2 linked regions of the Homo sapiens genome follow. The protein of the gene in region 1 interacts with the protein of each later gene in a biochemical or structural test. Each region holds a gene or a part of one and is shown in the gene's direction. Other genes may lie near its edges.

The links.
Region 2: the proteins of CNTNAP4 (region 1) and GIPC2 interact in a test that uses a peptide from one of them, tested with the Homo sapiens proteins (one large-scale study listed by IntAct).

Annotation. Positions count from the first base shown.
Region 1 is NC_000016.10:76,535,674-76,539,631, forward strand, and holds part of CNTNAP4 (contactin-associated protein-like 4 isoform 1 precursor), read left to right. Parts: coding exon 1-111; intron 112-2,442; coding exon 2,443-2,667; intron 2,668-3,958. UniProt on the Homo sapiens protein: Presynaptic protein involved in both dopaminergic synaptic transmission and GABAergic system, thereby participating in the structural maturation of inhibitory interneuron synapses.
Region 2 is NC_000001.11:78,135,955-78,138,944, forward strand, and holds the end of GIPC2 (PDZ domain-containing protein GIPC2), read left to right. Parts: 3' UTR 1-2,490; downstream 2,491-2,990.

The DNA of each region.
Region 1 (3,958 bases):
GCAGCAGCTATGGGAAGTTATGCCGCAATGGAGGGAAATGCAGAGAAAGACCCATTGGGTTCTTTTGTGACTGCACTTTCTCTGCATACACAGGGCCATTCTGCTCAAATGGTAAGTGTGGCATGGAAGACTGTAAGAGGAAAATTTATTCAATGTGGATTAAATGTCTGGCAGTTCTTTTCTATGCAGCTATTTGAAACAAAAAAAATTCAATTTCTGAATTGCTTTGGCAAAGTATCTGTTGAATGTAAAGAATGAGTACAAGATCCTGGTGATGAGACAGCATCATATATTCAAAGATGGAGCGCATCATATTTCATTACTTAAATATTTGACTCATTTATGAAAAACTAGTGTTTGTTGATGGTAAATCCATTAATAGTCACCTTTATGTATTATAAAGTGTTAGTTGCTCAATCTGCTTTTTTCTACCTAGTGTTGATGCTCTTAAATAATATGGCTGTCAGCAACCTGCCCCATGGGGCAATTCTTTATTTTAAAATCATTTAAAGCATTACTTTTTTTTTTATTTGAGACTGAGTCTTACTCTGTCACTCTGTCACCCAGGCTGGAGTGCAGTGGCGCAATCTCGGCTCACTGCAACCTCCACCTCCCAGGTTCAAGCGATTCTCCTGCCTCCGCCTCCCGAGTAGCTGGGCTTACAGGAGCCCACCACTATGCCCAGCTAATTGTTGTATTTTTAGTAGAGATAGTGTTTCACCATGTTGCCCAGGCTGGTCTCAAGTTCCCGACCTCAAGTAATCCACCCACCTGAGCCTCCCAAAGTGCTGGGATTACAGACGTGAGTCCCCATGCCCGGCCCTGTTACTATTGTATTTGTTGAAGATATTCAACAATGCAAGGATATTTAAGATGCATTGTTTTTTATTTGAGTTTTTCAGACATAGTTTTTCCAGAAATATAAACAATATACCATTAAATATCGATGCATTACAAAAATAGACACATTTATACATTAATCATACATTTTATTGTATGATATGTTGAATATCTGCTGGTGAAATAAAATAGTAGAATACTTTTCAGCTTCTCTCATTATCTGATATGCCTCATGGAAGAAGAAAAGAACAGTTGTAGGATTAAGTGTTCTGGACAGACTTCCATGAATATACAAACATTTATTACTCTTTCATAGTTCCTCATAGAAGACTGACATCCAATTTAAATTCATTTACTTTATTTAAAGTGTCTCTTGGCTATTGAACCTTTTCCTGAAGGAGGCTAACAAAACTTGGCTCCAGATTAAAACAACTCCTGACTTACAAAGAAAGCATGGGATGAGTTAATAAAAAGATGGCCAAATGCTCTTTTCAAGTCATCTGCTTTTCTCAGGAATAATCTATAATTTACAAATCAACTTGTGATCATAATCATATACTGCTGGTACCATTCTAGGACACTTTTCATGTTTAAAGTGATCATTAAGACCACTTCATTAAAATAACATGTCTTTGTTTTCTGGATATAAATAATTTCCAGTTCATCTTGCTAAGTGCAACCGTAAATGTTACTCTGTATGCACATATTATATTGAATATAAAATGCGTGTTATAGATAATAAAATAATGAAACAATTAAAAACTCTAAGATGTCAAGGGAGCCTAAACATTACTGTATGATCCAGTAAGTATCATCTACAACTTGTATTCAATAACCAGTCCTTTTTCAGTAATGGAGAGAAGCAGATTCAGGGATTTAAAACTAGTTATTTCTTCTGCCATCTTCTTCATTTTCATACATATGTATTTGGTGTGTGTGTGTGAGAGAGAGAGAGAGGAAGACAGAGAGAATTTGGGATATTAATCTCATACCAGGAAAATACTACACTTTTGTAAAATGATTTAAAAGAGGTTGGTTAGTTCTGTTTGTTGATCCTGTTTCCCTGTATCATGTTAATACTAGACTTAGCTTTCTTTTTATAGTACACAATAACTATGAGAAAATGTTTAGACATAAAGGAAAATTTCTGCCTCTTGATCCTGGGAAAGAAGAGAGTCTCTCAAACATCCTTCCTTCCTAACTATTTTGTAGATAGGAGGCCCTAGACTTCCTTTAAGATACACTTCATTTAAGATTGTACTATCTGCAATATAACAGATGGGAGTTAAAATTTAAATAAAAAAGTAGATGATCAAGGAGATAGAAGACAAGCCTGGTTTGTGTTTGAACTCAGATAAGAAAGCATTTAACTTTCAACTGTAAAATTATACTAGTGCATTAATTATATGTCATTTTAACAGAAAGCCATTTCAAAGATCATTTTGAAAGCTCTATTAACTTACTTTATTATTTGATTCTATTTTGGGGTTGGTTCTTCTATCTATGCAATTCATTAAAGAAACTAAAATATAATTATTGTAACTAAAACAAAATCCTTGTACTTAAAATTTTTAACAAAAATATATATATATATTATTTCAGAGATTTCTGCATATTTTGGATCTGGCTCATCCGTGATATACAATTTTCAAGAAAATTATCTTTTAAGTAAAAACTCCAGCTCCCACGCTGCTTCATTTCATGGTGATATGAAGCTGAGCAGAGAAATGATCAAATTTAGTTTCCGAACAACACGAACACCAAGCTTGCTGCTTTTTGTGAGCTCCTTTTACAAAGAATACCTTTCTGTGATCATTGCCAAAAATGGTGAGTTCTTTTTAGATGAGAGAGAGAAAATTAAATTAGAACACTAGCTCTGTAATAATATGGATCATTCTCGTGTTCTGGCTTCTCAAGCTACAAACAGAAAAATGGAGTGTGCCTGTTTTTTGTAGTCATATTTTTAGTACTATCCTATAAGTATAATCTAAAAGGATTATTTAAAATGATTAAGATGCCCTTATCTCTTTATGATTTTGATAATTTTACATATTCAATGTATAATTTTATTTATATAAAACATTTATTATATTATTGTTAGAAGCTCCTTGACTATTCCATATGGCTATCAATATTTGTTTCATAGTTCATTTTGAAATAAGGTGTCTTGTTGTATGTAACTATTTCCTGCAAATCAAAGTAAAGAAACATTAAGGGAGTGTTAATAAACCAGCATTTTGAGTAAGAATATGTCCACAAGATGACCTTTTAGTTGTACTTTTAGTTAAAAAAATCATCATGGGAAAAAAATGTTATATCCATGCAGTGTTAAGGGAATGTAGATTAGGAAATGTGTTTCCTACAGAAAACCATTTACTGCTATTTTTCTCTTTCCCACATCTAGATTAAAGGTAAAAATTTTGGAAATAACTTCTCTGGATAAGAAAAGCAAACATACAAACATGTGACTATATCATTTCAACTGATTCAAATATATCCCAAGGGTACTGTACTGAACACCAAAATAAAAATAAGATTGTTCGATAAGTGTATTTATTCTTACTGTGCATTTTGAGCTTGAAGCTTATTTATATATTAGGGCATTTTCTTTGTCAAATTGAAAGATATCCTGTGAAATAAATTAACTGACATCTCTGCAGGCAATTAAATGAGTAGTACTAATTGTGATGGTAAATTTGGCTTAAAATCATTCATCTTACCATTATTTCATTTCAAAGTCTATGACCATGACTACTTGGACATATTTCTTCTCTTTAGTAAAACTACATTTGTGTTTAATAATTTCATTAATTGTTGTATTTCCAGAGTGTGAGATATATTTTTTAAATATAGGAACAGAATATTATTGCAATATTAAGCAATAGGTTGGCATTTCAGAAATACTTAATATTATTTTTTAAGTGAGAGGCAAGTGCAGAGATTTGCATATGCTTAATCTGAGTTGATGTTAAATTAAAAGATTTGCAGGAAAGAGAGTGCTTGTGTGCAACATACTTGGTCATGATTTTGCAAATACATTATTGCAATTTCACTTGGAAACTGACTCTTGGGGATTATAAAAAGGTATCTTCCAATTTTTCCCTCGAAATGAATAAAT
Region 2 (2,990 bases), on another chromosome or scaffold:
ATAAGGATCAATTGTAATATTCATTCAAAAGGTTTTTAAAAGTAAGTTTTAAGGAGTATTTCTCGACAGATGATTTTCTTCTCCATTAATACCCATGCTTTGTTTTTCACATATAAATAGATGATTTCAATAGCTTTGTAGTTTTTTTTCAAAATCTTAATGTAAACTAGGATTGGAGTATGATTTACCTCATAGTATCTTCACTGTGTTATCCTAGTTTGAACAGGATATGTTCAGGAAATGAAAGGTGAATTATGCCCCTTATTGGTCTAGAAGCATTGGTTTTTTTTTGATCCTCTGAGTAAGGGAAGGAAGATTCCTGTGGCATGTTGATTTCTATGGCCAACTTTCTCTCTTTGTAAAACAAAGATTGATTGATTTTCTTGTATGCTTCTTTATACATGCTCTTAAAACTTGTGGTTGAAATCTGTGCTGTGTGTGTGTGTCTCTGCATGTGTAAAAGAAGGGTAAAAAAGAGATGGGTAGGGTAGAACTACTTGCATTTGATTTTTTTTTCAGTCCTTAAAACATTATTTCTTTTTTTCACTCATAGCCACTTTTATGTTACCTTTTATAAGCACTCCAGGGAAGATTTTATATTTTTTTGTAGAGTTTTTGGAAAGATATTTACTCAAAATAACTATGCTTTAGAACTTTTTTTTTTTTTTTTTTTTTGGTTAAACAGCAGCACTTTTTAGTTCCCTAAACTTTAGAAGAAATGCTATCAGAAATAGATTTCCTTCCAGTGGAAAGAAAGGAGGAAGGGAGAATTGAGAAAATATATTAGTCTATTATTTTAGAGTTCTAATACACTCTAAATTAAAGAGAAAATTGAGAGTAAATGACTGTCTTATCACTCTTATTTGACATTTCGTAGGTGTAAGAGAAATGGAAATGAATGGTTTCAACAAAGATCATTTAATACAGCAGAGCATGGCATGACCAAGCATCTTTGTAAAGTGTTAGATGGAAAATGCTGTGTGCTGCCATGGTAATCAGAAATAATAACCTGTTAGGGATGTATTCTAGGAAATCAGAAGTAGTTCTCTTTTCTTGCTGGATTATTGCTTAGATAACTCTTGTTTTCTGGTAAAACTTTAGTTGTATTGCCATCCACTCCTTTTTCAAATGAGTTTAATGCCATAAAGCTGATATTCTTTGTCCGATTAATTTGAAATCTGCACAGAAGCTGTTTTAGTCATTAATGTGTAACAAAAGTAGCTTATAGAATATGGACTGCCTTATTGCTGTTGCTTATCATTTGAAAATAAAATCCAGCTCAGGTTGTAACTTGTTGGTACTCGTTTAGTGAGTTCGTTTTGGAGGTTCTGAAATACCTATTAATTCTTAATATTACCTCTCTTGGAAAGACACAAAAAAAGAGCTGTTATTTTTAGGCATAAGATGACTTAGGAGGCCCATAGAAACATTCTCGTTTAAACAACAACAACAAAATAAATTTATCAGCACTAGATATTAGATTTGAAATAAGTCATTGTTCATTATTGATGGTTGTCAGTTTCTCCTTCCTTTTTGGGCATGCATAAAGACACACTTGGTGCTGATTCCATGTGATTTATGGAATGTCATTTTCACAATGATCTTTCTAGAATTTGTGTGTAAGGTTGTGATATCCATGTACAGCTGTAACTATATATACTTGTCTGTTAGCATTCAGTGGACCATTATCATTACTATCATCACATTACCTGGGCTTCAACTGGGCCCAAGTACTCTATATACTGCCTGTAATAGGTTTTTCCTTGAAATATCCTTATCTTTCACCTCTACAGCTAAACTGATAACAAGGTCAGTTTCTTTATGTCATTTTATTCCCATACCTAAAATTGCATCTATTTGTGAGCTTTCTGCCTTTTTGTAACGCTCAGTGCACCAAAAGCGTCTGTTTTTAGTGCAGTCACATAATATATAAGTGTGGGATACCCTTCTGCAGCTTCAGTGAGACAAATCACTTTTTAAAAAACATTCCATTTTATTGGCATCACTAGATGTTTTTAGGACCCTGTCCTTTTCACTTTTCTGTAGGCTTTTTTTTTTTAAATGGAAGATGATTATTTTGTTTGTTCTTGATTTCCTGTTATTGAAAACAGCATCTTCCTTCTTGCAATGGCCACTAATAGCACACAATGCGTTTTCTTTGATTGTAGCAGAAAATGCAAATGATAATTGTATGTTGGGCTCGATGAGGCCTTGAACATAGCTGAGTCCTAATCAGATGTATATACTCTGATGATTACAAATAGGTACATGTTGGGTTTCTGTGATGTTTCAAAAATACAATTATATAATTATGATGTAAACTCTTTAAGAATTCAATTATAAAAGCAATAATCAGGTAACCTCTATTTGGAGCTGCTACATCCAATATTGTGACTGAAAATTAACTAAAGAGAGATAATTTTTCAAATGATGTATAATTTGCAATATTTTCCCTTGCAACTTTAGCAAATACACATATTCCAAGTAAAACTTTATTTAGTCCCATGTTATTTATTTGTTTATTATTGACAGGGTCTCACTCTGTTGCCCAAGTGGGAGTGCAGGGGTACACATATTCCAAGTAAAACTTTATTTAGTCCCATGTTATTTATTTGTTTATTATTGACAGGGTCTCACTCTGTTGCCCAAGTGGGAGTGCAGGGGTTTGATCATGGCTCACTGCAGCCTTGACCTACCCAGGCTCATGTGATCCTCCCACCTCAGCCTCTCAAGAGCTGGGACTATAGATGTGCACCACCATGTCCAGCTAATTTTTGTACTTTTGTAGAGATGGGGTTTTGCCATGTTGCCCAGGCTGGTTTCAAACTCTTGGGCTCAAGAAGTCTTCCCGCCTTGGCCTCCCAAAGGGATTACAAGCACGAGCCACTGCACCAGGCCAGTCCCATGTTATTTATTGCTAGACCTTTATCACTTCTAGAGACTCCCTGGTCTCCTTCAATTATTGCCTGTCTAACGTAGTAGCAAAATGG